Linked DNA regions of Homo sapiens. The protein of the gene in region 2 purifies or fractionates together with the protein of the main gene of each other region. This does not show direct contact. Each region holds a gene or a part of one and is shown on either strand. Other genes may lie near its edges.

Region 1 (7,538 bases), on a different chromosome or scaffold from region 2:
CGCAGTTTTTCATGTTCCACATTTATTATTTTGATGGTTCCAAATATTTTCTTTTTTTTTGAGACAGTCTCACTCTGTCGCCAGGCTGGAGTGCAGTGGCGCTCTCTCGGCTCACTGCAACCTCCTCCTCCCGGGTTCAAGCAATTCCTCCATATCAGCCTCCCAAGTAGCTGGGGCTACAGGCATGTGCCACCACACTCAGCTAATTTTTTGTATTTTTAGTAGAGACGGGCATCTCACCATGTTTGCCAGACTGGTCTTGAACACCTGACCTCAAGTGATCTGCCCGCCTTGGCTTCCCAAAGAGCTGGAATTACAAGTGTGAGCCACCACACCCAGGTGGTTCCATAATATTTCATAATGTACTCAACCACTGAGATTGTTTGGAAAATTCTGGTAAGAAAATGGAAATCGAAATTCTTATGCAAACCTCACTGATCCTCTTTTTTGGAATGATTCCTCAAGGCACATTCTTAGGCTTTGGGTTTTCTTTGGCCAAGGGTTAGAAAAGTTTTATGTGTTGCTAAATTGCTTACAAAAAGGTCTGTATTAATCTACACTCTGAATCATTAAAATCGGATCTCTGACTTTAAATTATGCTTAAGTGTGCAATATACAAACAGTAGCCTCCACAAAGGATATTCTTCTCATATTACCTATTAGTGAAAACAGATGTCATGTACTTACTGTTCTGAATGCCATAAATTTCATCAATGAGTCCTTCATATGTCAGCTGAGTGGCAAGAGGTGTTAATAAATCCACATTCCGATCAAGCAACAAGAGATTATCAAAAACAGGAAATATTGAATTCTGGCTTCCTGTAAACTCTCTCTTCATCCTGATCATCATATTGGCCACTTGCTGGAAACAAAACATTGGATGAGGTGGGGCCCCCCTGGGAACAAGCAGATTTTAAAATTTGTCTAAAACCAGAAAGACAATCAAAAAAGTAAAAAAGGAGAAAAACTGGAAGAGTGCATTGCTTAGAAATAAGCAGCTCTAGAAAAGCACCTTGCTGTTGGCACCCATCCCGACACTTGCACCAAGGCAGCTGCCATTTGCCAATGAGGCATAAAATCAGGTCAGTCTATTCTTGTGATTCGCAGTAGTTATGTTCTATGAAGTCACTGCAAACACTAAATTAGCGAAGATGGAACCACTGTTCCTAGGAGAAACGCAGACTTAGGTTCCTGGGAGCCTCTGGTCTCAACGTTTCTGTCAATTGATCAATACGTAACCCAGTTTTATATGTGTTTCTGCTTAAAGATGCCTGACTTAACATAATTGTTGATCACTCACACTGAACTGACAGCCAGCAGCTCTGTGACTCGTGCCTGAACGAAGCGTCTCTGACACACGTAATGTCTCCGCCAGGCACACCACAGCCTTCTTGTGCACAAGACACCCGACTGCACCTCAGTCCTACATTTGCAGGCCATTTTAAACAGTGAAATCACCAAAAAAAGTACACACGTGTGGAAAATATGACAGTGAGACTGTGAAAAGTACACTTGTTTGCAGTCTGAGAGCTGAAATGGGAAGGTGGAGTGTCAGCTGCCTCAGTTGGGAACATGCGCAGTGGTTACTCAAACTGTCACCACTGTGCACGCCGACAAAAGCACCATGAGTACTGACTTGGAGGGTTATAAGTGCATTTTAATCAGTAGGCAAATTCATGAGTACAGTATTCATAAATAATTAAGATCAACTGAATTTGTTTGTAAGGAGCTTCCCGTTCCTCCTCCCTTTTGGGGTGTGAAGGGCCCTCCTTTACCACCACAAAGCAGCCGGTTCTCACCCGAGCGCATTCTCCTTTCCCAAAGATCTGGGGGATCGTTCCATACAGAGCTTGCAGGGTCATCAGCCCCTTGGCTGCGTGGTACAGGCTCGTCTGGTCACCCTCCAGGTAGCACTCCTGTGAGGGAAAAGGCCAATTATTGCCAGGCCATGGGGGCCTCCCAGGGGCCCATCTCTGTTCCTGGGGCTGGGGTGCAGCGACAGACAATAAAATCATTTCCAGTTATTTCACACTGTGCCAGGAAAATTGGGGACTCAAGTTCATTTTCCAAAACTGCTGCCTGTCAGACCAGGCGCTGAGGCTGGCAGCCCCAGGGTGGGTGCAGCCGTGGAAGCACCTCTCCTGGGCAGAGCCGGGGCTTCTGGGAGAAAACTGTTCACCCAGCATGCCAGCTCTTCTGAATCAGCTCTTAAATAAAAGACGGAAGAATACAGACTTACACTGAACGATGGGTTCCCATTCACTGGTGAGAGTAAACTCTGGTAGGACATGCTGGGAGAGCGACATGCTAATACCCAGAAATGCAAAAGACCACAGGACGAATACTTTATTGTTTTCAAAAAGGATGAGGCAGATTTTCATGACAACTGACAACTGAAGGCCACAATCTGTTGAGTATGATCTCATTTTATAAAAAATATATATTTTTGCATTGAAAAAAGGACCTCCAACTCAGCAAACTATCACAAGGACAAAAAAACAAACACCGCATGTTCTCACTCATAGGTGGGAATTGAACAATGAGAACACTTGGACACAGGAAGGGGAACATCACACACCAGGGCCTGTCGTGGGGTGGGGGAAGGGGGGAGGGATAGCATTAGGAGATATACCTAATGTAAATGATGAGTTAATGGGTGCAGCACACCAACATGGCACATGTATACATATGTAACAAACCTGCATGTTGTGCACATGTACCCTAGAACTTAAAGTATAAAAAAAAAAAAAAGAAAAAAGAATCTCCAAAATACACACAAAACCACCTGGGAAGGCTAGGTGCAGTGGCTCATGGCTGTAATCACAGCACTTTGGGAGGCTGAGATAGGAGGATTGCTTGAGCTCTTGAGTTTGAGACCAGACTGGGCAACATAGTGAGACCCTGTATCTATAAAAAATTAAATAATTAGCCAGGGATAGTAGCATGCATCTGTATCTGAGCTACTCAGGAGGGTAAGGCAGGAGGATCACCGGAGCCCAGGGATTTGAGGCTGCAATGAGCTATGTTCGCACCGCCACACTCCCCTCTGGGCAACAGAGCAAGACCCCATCTCTTTTTTTATTTTTATTTTTATTTTTTTTTTGAGATGGAGTCTCGCTCTGTCGCCCTGGCTGGAGTGCAGTGGCGCGATCTCGGCTCACTGCAAGCTCCACCTACTGGGTTCACACCATTCTCCTGCCTCAGCCTCCCAAGTAGCTGGGACTACAGGCGCCCGCCACCACGCCTGGCTAATTTTTTTGTATTTCTTAGTAGAGACGGGGTTTCACCATGTTAGCCCTGATGGTCTCGATCTCCTGACCTCGTGATCCGCCCACCTCGGCCTCCCAAAGTGCTGGGATTACAGGCGTGAGCCACCGCGCCCAGCCGACCCCATCTCTTTAAAAAAAAAAGAGAGAGAGAAAAAAACCACCTGTGAGGTGAGAGGAGGGAAGCAGTCACTTTTGATACAGGTGGATCAAAACACAGGTTCTAGACTCAGATTGCCTTGTTCTGAATCCAACTGTGTCACTTACTAGCTGTGCCCTGGGCCAGTTAGAGAATCTCTTTGTGCCTCAATTTATTCATATGTAGAAGGGAGTATAGTCCACATAGGGCAAGTATTAAATGAGAAAAATACATGTAAAGCATTTAATCCCAGTACCTGAAACATACAGCAAATGCTCAGTAACAGTTAGCTTTTATTTGGAATTATTTAGGTTTTTTTACAACCATTATCCACTCATAAGTCAATATGGTACATTTTATCAATTCCCTCCACCCCTACCAACCCAACATGTCCCTGCTGTCCACAGCCAGAACTGAGGGGGCCCTGAGGGTCCAGGGCCTGAGGAAGAGAGAGCGGGGTTGTCACTTGTCAGGCCCTCTGCCCCAGGGAGGAAGGATGGCAGACATGGTGGGGAGCGTTTGGTTATTATTGAGAGTGTCGCCGGACTACTCTTTCAAGTGTGGTATATTTTAACGTTTCCCTGAATATGGCAGACCATCGAGAATATGTCAAAAGACACGCTTTTTGGCAAAACCACTTAAAACTCCAGATCAGATGAACGTTCAAGGGCAAAAGACATTGAGGGCTGGGTGCGGTGGCTCACGCCTGTAATCCCAGCACTTTGGGAGGCTGAGCGGGGAGGATCATGAGGTCGGGAGTTCTAGACCAGCCTGACCAAAATGGTGAAACCCCTTCTCTACTAAAAATACAAAAATTAGCCAGGTGTGGTGGCATGTGCCTGTAATCCCAGCTACTCAGGTGACTGAGGCAGCAGAATCACTTGAACTCAGGAGGTGGAGGTTGCAGTGAGCTGAGATTGTGCCACTGCACTCCAGCCGGGGCAACAGAGCAAGACTGTCTCAAAAAAAAAAAAAAAAAAGACATTAAGGAACTCCTCTCCAAATAGCATTCATATTTTACTTAATTTTTTTAAGTTGTACTACTACAAAGACATCTCTTTTACAATATTTTTTAAAAGATGTAAAAGTTAACAACAGATTTTAATCTTGGTTGTTTTTCCTTTTTTGAGACAGAGTCTTGCTCTATCACCCAGGCTGGAGTGCAGTCGGGCAACCTCAGCTCACTGCAACCTACACCTCCCGAGTTCAAGTGATTCTCCTGCCTCAGCCTCCTGAGTAGCTGGGATCATAGGTGCCCACCACCATGCCTGGCTAAGTTTTTGTGTTTTTAATAGAGATGGGGTTTCACCACGTTGCCGAGGCTGGTCTCGAACCCCTAACCTCAGGTGATCCGTCTGCCTTGGCCGCCCAAAGTGCCACCACACCCAGCCCAATACCCTTAACATTTAAATGCGCATTTTTTTAACCCCAAAGTCTCACATACCCACACAGCAGAATACCTTGCAGAATACCATACAAGAGGCAGGTTTTATATATGCTGATTTTTATATATACGCGTAAAGGCCACAGTACCTTAAGCAATGTTATTGAGCATTTGACTGGGCAGAACTCTAATTCCCACATTTTACACAGAACAATGACATAGATGGTCACAACTGTAACTCAAAACACAGAGAGATCTAGATGTACCTCCTGAAGCCAATCACAGAAATACGATTAACGTCATCTCCACCAAAAATCGGGGCTGACTTTAACATTAGGCTCTTAGGTCGAAGCTCTTAGCTGTGCCATCCGGATAAAGTCCTTTCTTTTTCTTTCTGCCACTTCCTCTAACTCCCCCAATCCACCCCCCCGCCTTTTTTTTTTTTTTTGAGATAGGCTCTCGCTCTGTTGCCCAGGCTGGAGTACAGTGGTGCAATCTTGGCTCACTGCAACCCCTGCCTCCTGGGCTCAAGTGATTCTCCTGCCTCAGTCTGCGAAGTAGCTGGGATTACAGGCATGCACCACCACACCCAGCTAATTTTAATTTTGTTTTATTTTTAGTAGAGATGGAGTTTTGCTATGTTGCCCAGCCTGGTCTCGAACTACTGACCATAGATGATCCGCCCACCTCAGCCTCCCAAAGTGCTGGCAGGTAGGAGCCACCATGTCCGGCCAAAACAGCATCTTAGGTGAATATACAAAGCCAAAGGCTTGAAATTGTCAGTAGAAAATAGTTCTGGCCAGGCGCGGTGGCTCACGCCTGTAATCCCAGCACTTTGGGAGGCTGAGGCGGTGGATCGCCTGAGGTCAGGAGTTCGAGACCAGCTTGGGCCACATGGTGAAACCCTGTCTCTACCAAAAACACAAAAAATTAGCCAGTGTGGTGGCTGGCGCCTGTAGTCCCAGCTACTCAGGAGGCTGAGGCAGGAGAATCACTTGAACCCAGGAGGTGGAGGCTGCAATGAGACGAGATGGCACCAACGCACTCCAGCCTAGGCGGCAGAGTGAAACTCAGTTTCAAGGAAAAAAAAAAAAAAAAGAAAATAGTTCTGCCCTTTCTTACAAATCATAAGTAAAATAAACAGGTTATTTCTCCTCTGCACAGATTTTGTCACTCCAAGAGAGTTTGCTTCGGCTGCTACCAATTCCCATTAAATACACAAATATGGATTAATTAAAAATGAGTATACCATCACAGGTATGTGATAAAGCACATATAGAAAACTGTTAATCCAGAAGATAAGTGGTGGATAGACAGGTGTTCACTGTACAATTCAATTTTTTGGTATATTGAAATTTTCCTATAAAATGTTAGAAGGAAATCTATATTACCATCAGGTAGGATTTCGTGTAAGCAAACCACTAGGGAACAAGGTACAAAAGAGCCAAGAGGGTTGGGCGCAATGGCCCACGCCTGTAATCCCAGCACTCTGGGAGGCCGAGATGAGCAGATCATGAGGTCAGGAGTTCGAGACCAGCCTGGCCAACATGGTGAAACCCCGTCTCTACTAAAAATACAAAAAATTAGCCAGGTGCAGTGGCGGGCACCTGTAATTCCAACTACTCGGGAGGCTGAGGCAGGAGAATCGCTTGAACCTGGGAGGCGGAGGTTGCAGTGAGCCGAGATTGCGCCACACAGCACTCCAGCCTGGGGAACAAGAGTGAGACTCCGTCTCAAAAAAAAAAAAAAAAAAAAAAAAAGCCAAGAAAGTCCCCTGGTTATAGGATTAGTCGGTGGTGCCACTGACTTCTACTGCCCCAGATTAACTTTTTTATTTTTCGCTTTTTCTGTGGCCGGGTCTCACTCTGTCACCCAGGCAGGAGTGCACTGGTGTGATCACAGCGCCCTGCAGCCTCAACCTCCTGGGCTCAAGTGATCCTTCTGCCTCAGCCTCCTGAGTTACTGGAATGACAGGTGCACATCACCACGTGTGGCTAGTTTTTTGTAAAGACAGGGCCTCACTCTGTTGCCCAGGCTGGTCTCGAACTCCTGGCCTTAAGTGATCCTCCCACCTTGGTCTCCCAAAGTGCTGGGATTACGGGCATGAACCACTGTGCCTGGCCTATTTTATTTTTTTAAATAAGTTTCATTTTTCCCCCTTTTGTGAAAACTGTCAACAAATTAACTCTTTTAACGAGGTGATCTCTGTAACAACACAATGGGGAAAAAAAGATTCCAATAATTTTATGTACTATACCAGCGGTTCCCTAAAGTTCTAGTCTCTACCTTCGAAGTATTTTATTGGTAAGAAGAAAAAAAGGCCAGGCACAGTGGCTCACACCTGCAGTCCCAGCAGTTTGGGAGGCTGAGGCAGGCAGATCTCTTGAGGTCAGGAGTTCGAGACCAGCCTGGCCAACATGGTGAAACCCCATCTCCACTACAAATACAAAAATTAGCCTGGCGTGGTGGCGCGTTCCTGTAATCCCAGCTACTCGGATAGCTAAGACGGGAGAATTGCTTGAACTGGGGAGGTGGAAGTTGCGGTGAGACGAGATTGTGCCACTGCATCCCAGCCTGGGTGACTGAGTGAGAATCTGTCTCAAAAACAATTAAAAAAAAAAAAGTTCTAGTCTCCAGAGCAGCAGCAGCGGCACCAGCAGCAGCAGCATCATAAACTCATAAATCAAAGAAACATGGGTAAGTGTGATTATGTTAAAAACATACACACAGCCAAAATTACCAGAAGCAA
Region 2 (7,538 bases):
TTCTGCAGCCACGAGGAGTCAAAGGAATTAACGTGACTTAAGAGCATCCAGGAGGTGTGGAGGGGTGGAGGTGGGGCTGCGAGGGGTGGCGCCGAATCAAGAGGAGACAGGGAGCTGCTCCCTGATACAATCTGGGGACGATCTCAGTCGAGTCACATCATTGACACACCAAACCACTGGAAAACTAACACAGACAATGACGCACACGGTTAAACGTCAGACCCCACCATACAGGCTGTGGTTACTGGTAAGTTTTTGGCTGGACAGGGAGCCAGGCAGGGGAGGCTACAGGCAGCTTTGCAGAGGAAAGTGTGGCAGGACAGGCTGGATGTCAGGAAAACCTGAATTCCGAGTCTGACCTGACAGACTTTGGGCACACGCAACTTTTCAAAGCCTCAGTTTCCGGTGAGACTCCTGCTTCTGGGAAGACGGAGTAGACATCCTCCCTATTCTTCTTCTAAGTAAACTAAAAATCCTGGACATCATCTGTAAAACAAGATGACTCTGAAAGATGGAGAGAAGGCAGACTGGCTTGGGTCCTTGGGACCCCAGGAACAACACGGGGGCAAGTCCTCTAGATTTTCATTTTGCCTCATAGATCCCATACTTGGAGCTGAAGACACAGTCAATTGGAAATCTCAACGGGTGCAGACAAAAAAAGAAACTCCAACAAAGCCTGCTGTCTCTGCCCAAAGGACCACGATAGAGGCCTGGCAAGAGAGAAAATGTTCCGACAGTAATCACTCTACATCAGCCAAATAACACAGAAAAAACTACGGCCCCACCTCCACCCACATGGGCAAAGGCTGGATGGAGCTGAGGCTCCCACTCCCACCCAGCAGCAAACACAGGGTGGGGTCGGGGGGAGCCATGTGGGGAGCAGTGCTGAGGCCTTCCCAGCCGGGGGGCACCAGTAGAGGCCGGGGGGCTGGAACTCCCATCCTTTCCTCGGGGGCCCATGGGGGCCAGAGGCTGAGTGGGGAGCCTGGACTTCCATCCTCACCTGGCAGTAAGGAGGCTGCGTGGCCCTTCCCCTGCCAGGGCGCCATTCAAGAAAGCCAGCTAAGACCGAAGGTTTAAATAAAAACCAGTGTTTCAGCACGTAATGCCCCAAATGCGCAGGTTCAAACAGAAAATCACTCCTAGTACCAAGGGCCAGGACGGGTCACACTAAATGAACAAAGATGATCAACAGATGCCAAGACCTGGATGAGAGATGGCAGTATCATCTGACAAGGACTTCAGAGCAGCTGCCATGACAGAGAGCCTAAGAAAATAAACACAAGACGTAAAGAAGAACCAAATGAAAATTCTGGAACTGAAAAACAGAACAACTCGAAGAAAAACTGGAATGACGGAATCAGGACTCCCCCACAAACACAGAAACAACCCTTCGCAGCCTGGCCACACACATCATTCCACAACACATAGGACTCCCCCACAAACACAGAAACAACCCTTCGCAGCCTGGCCACACACATCATTCCACAACACATAGGACTCCCCCACAAACACAGAAACAACCCTTCGCAGCCTGGCCACACACATCATTCCACAACACATAGGACTCCCCCACAAACACAGAAACAACCCTTCGCAGCCTGGCCACACACATCATTCCACAACACATAGGACTCCCCCACAAACACAGAAACAACCCTTCGCAGCCTGGCCACACACATCATTCCACAACACATAGGACTCCCCCACAAACACAGAAACAACCCTTCGCAGCCTGGCCACACACATCATTCCACAACACATAGGACTCCCCCACAAACACAGAAACAACCCTTCGCAGCCTGGCCACACACATCATTCCACAACACATAGGACTCCCCCACAAACACAGAAACAACCCTTCGCAGCCTGGCCACACACATCATTCCACAACACATAGGACTCCCCCACAAACACAGAAACAACCCTTCGCAGCCTGGCCACACACATCATTCCACAACACATAGGACTCCCCCACAAACACAGAAACAATCCTTTGCAGCCTGGTCACAAACATCATTCCATAATACATAAAACTAATTCTACAGCACGGCCACGTGGGGATTGCTCCAGAGACAAAAGACGGGTTCAATATTCAAAAATCAATGCAATCTAACACATTACTAAGCTGATGAAGAAAAATCACGATTCCATCAATTGAAACCAAAAAAAAACGGACCAAATTCAACACCTATTCATGAAAAACAGGAATACAGGGGAGCTTCCTTGACTTGATAAACAGCATCTACGGAAAACCTGCAGCTGACACTGTACTTAGCTGGGAGAGGCTGAGTGTGTTCTCTCTCAGGTCAGGGACCGTCCAACAGAGTCCCAGAAGCTCCAGCTAGTGCCGGAAGGCAAGACAAGAAATCAAAGGCAAACAGGCTGGAAAGAAGAAATACAACTAAAGTCTTACTCCTTATTAACAAAATTAACTCAAATGGGTAAGGGCTTAAATGTAAAATGTAAAACTAAAACTTTAGGAAGAAAAAACCTTCAGGATCTAGAGCTAGGCAGAATTCTTAGACTTTCCACAAAAAGCATGGTTCATAAAAGGAAACGATGATAAGCTGCCCTTCATCAAAATTACAACTTTTACACTGCAAATGCCCCTATGAAGAGAATGAAAAGACAGGCTACAGACTGGGAGAGGATACTTGCAAGCCACATATGCAACTAAGGACTAGAATCTAAGACATATTAACAACTCTCAAAACTCAACATTAAAAAACAAACAGTCCTATTAGGAAACGGCTGAAAGGCAAGAATACTCATTTCATCAGGAGGATACGCTGATGGCAATGAGCACGTGAAGAGGTGCTCGACATCACACCCTGGAGCCACGATGAGAAAAGATGCTCAACACTGCACAGTAGAGCCACGATGAGACAGCACCACACACCCATCAGGATGGGGCAGACGGGACAGCAGTGTGAGCACGCTGATGCTCGACATCGCACACTGCAGCCACGATGAGACAGCACCACACACCCATCAGGATGGGGCAGACGGGACAGCAATGTGAGCACGCTGAGATGCTCGACATTGCACACTGCAGCCACGACGAGACAGCACCACACACCCATCAGGATGGGGCAGACGGGACAGCAGTGTGAGCACACTGATGCTCGACATCGCACACTGCAGCCACGACGAGACAGCACCACACACCCATCAGGATGGGGCAGACGGGACAGCACTGTGAGCACGCTGATGCTCGACATCGCACACTGCAGCCACGATGAGACAGCACCACACACCCATCAGGATGGGGCAGACGGGACAGCAGTGTGAGCACGCTGATGCTCGACATCACACACTGCAGCCACGATGAGACAGCACCACACACCCATCACGATGGGGCAGACGGGACAGCAGTGTGAGCACGCTGATGCTCGACATCGAATACTGCAGCCACGATGAGACAGCACCACACACCCATCACGATGGGGCAGACGGGACAGCAGTGTGAGCACGCTGATGCTCGACATCGCACACTGCAGCCATGACGAGACAGCACCACACACCCATCATGATGGGGCAGACTGGACAGCAGTGTGAGCACACTGATGCTCGACATCGCACACTGCAGCCACGACGAGACAGCACCACACACCCATCAGGATGGGGCAGACGGGACAGCAGTGTGAGCACGCTGATGCTCGACATCGCACACTGCAGCCACAATGAGACAGCACCACACACCCATCAGGATGGGGCAGACGGGACAGCAATGTGAGCACGCTGAGATGCTCGACATTGCACACTGCAGCCACGACGAGACAGCACCACACACCCATCAGGATGGGGCAGACGGGACAGCAGTGTGAGCACACTGATGCTCGACATCGCACACTGCAGCCACGACGAGACAGCACCACACACCCATCAGGATGGGGCAGACGGGACAGCAGTGTGAGCACACTGATGCTCGACATCGCACACTGCAGCCACGACGAGACAGCACCACACACCCATCAGGATGGGGCAGACGGGACAGCAGTGTGAGCACGCTGATGCTCGACATCGCACACTGCAGCCACGATGAGACAGCACCACACACCCATCAGGATGGGGCAGACGGGACAGCAATGTGAGCACGCTGAGATGCTCGACATCGCACACTGCAGCCACGACGAGACAGCACCACACACCCATCAGGATGGGGCAGACGGGACAGCAGTGTGAGCACACTGATGCTCGACATCGCACACTGCAGCCACGACGAGACAGCACCACACACCCATCAGGATGGGGCAGACGGGACAGCAGTGTGAGCACACTGATGCTCGACATCGCACACTGCAGCCACGACGAGACAGCACCACACACCCATCAGGATGGGGCAGACGGGACAGCAATGTGAGCACGCTGATGCTCGACATCGCACACTGCAGCCACGATGAGACAGCACCACACACCCATCAGGATGGGGCAGACGGGACAGCAGTGTGAGCACGCTGATGCTCGACATCACACACTGCAGCCACGATGAGACAGCACCACACACCCATCACGATGGGGCAGACGGGACAGCAGTGTGAGCACGCTGATGCTCGACATCGAATACTGCAGCCACGATGAGACAGCACCACACACCCATCACGATGGGGCAGACGGGACAGCAATGTGAGCACGCTGATGCTCGACATCGCACACTGCAGCCATGACGAGACAGCACCACACACCCATCATGATGGGGCAGACTGGACAGCAATGTGAGCACGCTGAGATGCTCGACATTGCACACTGCAGCCACGATGAGACAGCACCACACACCCATCAGGATGGGGCAGACGGGACAGCAATGTGAGCACGCTGAGATGCTCGACATTGCACACTGCAGCCACGACGAGACAGCACCACACACCCATCAGGATGGGGCAGACGGGACAGCAGTGTGAGCACGCTGATGCTTGACATCGCACACTGCAGCCACGATGAGACAGCACCACACACCCATCAGGATGGGGCAGACGGGACAGCAGTGTGAGCACGCTGATGCTCGACATCGCACACTGCAGCCACGATGAGACAGCACCACACACCCATCAGGATGGGGCAGACGGGACAGCAATGTGAGCATGCTGAGATGCTCGACATTGCACACTGCAGCCACGATGAGACAGCACCACACACCCATCAGGATGGGGCAGACGGGACAGCAATGTGAGCACGCTGAGATGCTCGACATTGCACACTGCAGCCACGACGAGACAGCACCACACACCCATCAGGATGGGGCAGACGGGACAGCAGTGTGAGCACGCTGATGCTTGACATCGCACACTGCAGCCACGATGAGACAGCACCACACACCCATCAGGATGGGGCAGACGGGACAGCAGTGTGAGCACGCTGATGCTCGACATCGCACACTGCAGCCACGATGAGACAGCACCACACACCCATCACGATGGGGCAGACGGGACAGCAGTGTGAGCACACTGATGCTCGACATCGAATACTGCAGCCACGACGAGACAGCACCACACACCCATCAGGATGGGGCAGACGGGACAGCAGTGTGAGCACACTGATGCTCGACATCGCACACTGCAGCCACGACGAGACAGCACCACACACCCATCACGATGGGGCAGACGGGACAGCAGTGTGAGCACGCTGATGCTCGACATCGCACACTGCAGCCATGACGAGACAGCACCACACACCCATCATGATGGGGCAGACTGGACAGCAGTGTGAGCACACTGATGCTTGACATCGCACACTGCAGCCACGACGAGACAGCACCACACACCCATCAGGATGGGGCAGACGGGACAGCAGTGTGAGCACGCTGATGCTCGACATCGCACACTGCAGCCACGACGAGACAGCACCACACACCCATCAGGATGGGGCAGACGGGACAGCAGTGTGAGCACGCTGATGCTCGACATTGCACGCTGCAGCCACGATGAGACAGCACCACACACCCATCAGGATGGGGCAGACGGGACAGCAGTGAAACACCAAATACTGACCAGGTGGAGAAACCGATCAGCTCTGCATTGCTGGTGAGAACCTAAAACGGTGCAGCAACTCGGGAAACATTTCAGCCCTTCTTAAAAAACTAAACGTGCAACCTCCATAAAACCCAGTAATTTCACTTCTGGCCCTTTATCCGAGAGAAATGAAAACTTACATCGACACAAAAACCTACACAAGAATGTTTATAAGAGCTTTATTCATAACAGCTGAAAACTGGAAAGGACCCAGATGTCTTTCAGTGGTTAAACACACTGTGGTACGTCCATGTCATAAAACACGACTCAGCAATGAAACTATCTATGAACTACTGATACAGCAACAATCTGCATGGACCTCAGGGGGTTATGCTGAATGAAAAAAGTCAACCCGAAAGGTTATATACTGTTTGATTCCATTTACATAACATTCTTGAAATGACAAAGTTCTGGAGATGAAGAACAGATCAGTAGCTGCCGGGGGCTATGGAGGGAGGGGCGGTACACAGGGCAGCACGTGAGGCCCCAGGGATTGGGGTATCTTGACCGCATCCTGGCAGATGTCTTGGCTGTGACACTGCACTATCGTTTTGCAGATGCTTCCACTGGGGAAAGCTGGGTAGAGGGTACACGGGCTCTCTGCATTACTGATGACAACTGCATGTGATTTACATGACCCCAAAATAAAATATTTAATTAAAAGAAACTGAGTTGGGCCCAGTGAACTCAACCAGTCCCTTTCAGCTCTAAAACTATGTTTTCTGGGTCAGGGGAGGAAACAGGAGGTACAGGAACACTAGAGGGGAGAAAGCACGGAGAGATGGGAAAAGCACGGAGAGAGAGATGGGGAAAGGGCAATCAAGAAGACTGAGAGAAAAGGGGGGAAGCAGAATGACAGAGGAGGTGTGAAGAGAGAGAAGCCCTCTGGAGTGCTGAAATACTGAATATTCTCCCCTGGGAGCTACTCAGGGTAAGAATTTCTCCAGGGACTGCTCTTTCGGGCAAGCACAATTACACACATTTCTATGTTATGTTAAGTAAAAATCTAGTAAATGGGCTGGGCACGGTGGCTCACACCTGTAACCCCAGCACTTTGGGAGGCCGAGGCGGGCAGATCATGAGGTCAGGAGATCGAGACCATCCTGGCCAATGTGGTGAAACCCCGTCTCTACTAAAAATACAAAAATTAGCTGGACGTGGTGAGGGGCGCCTGTAATCCCAGCTACTCGGGAGGCTGAGGCAGGAGAATCACTAGAACCAGGGAGTCAGAGGTTGCAGCAAGCCGAGATCGCGCCACTGCACTCCAGCCTGGCGACAGGGCAAGACTCCGTCTCGAAAAAAAAAAAAAATTCTAGTAAATGAAGCGAGTGATCAGGACAAAACTAGCCTCTCATCAATAAATCAACCAATAGCGCTTATCAAGTATTCATATGTCTGCCTCTTCTTCTAGACTACACTAGGGGCTGGTTAACGCTCCTATGTGCAACAGAACCTCAAACACATCGTAACACACCTTTGGAGAATCCTTACAAGAACACCAACTTAACAGTTCTCTCTGACCACACT

What was found.
Region 1: the proteins of CCDC127 (region 2) and VPS33A purify together in Homo sapiens (co-immunoprecipitation; 2 studies listed by BioGRID and IntAct, with this or other methods). This does not show direct contact.

Annotation. Positions count from the first base shown.
Region 1 is NC_000012.12:122,249,184-122,256,721, forward strand, and holds part of VPS33A (vacuolar protein sorting-associated protein 33A), read right to left. Parts: intron 4,361-7,538; coding exon of another isoform or gene 4,283-4,360; exon of another isoform or gene 3,679-4,282; intron 1,917-3,678; coding exon 1,800-1,916; intron 863-1,799; coding exon 688-862; intron 1-687.
Region 2 is NC_000005.10:207,721-215,258, forward strand, and holds part of CCDC127 (coiled-coil domain-containing protein 127), read right to left. Parts: intron 1-7,538.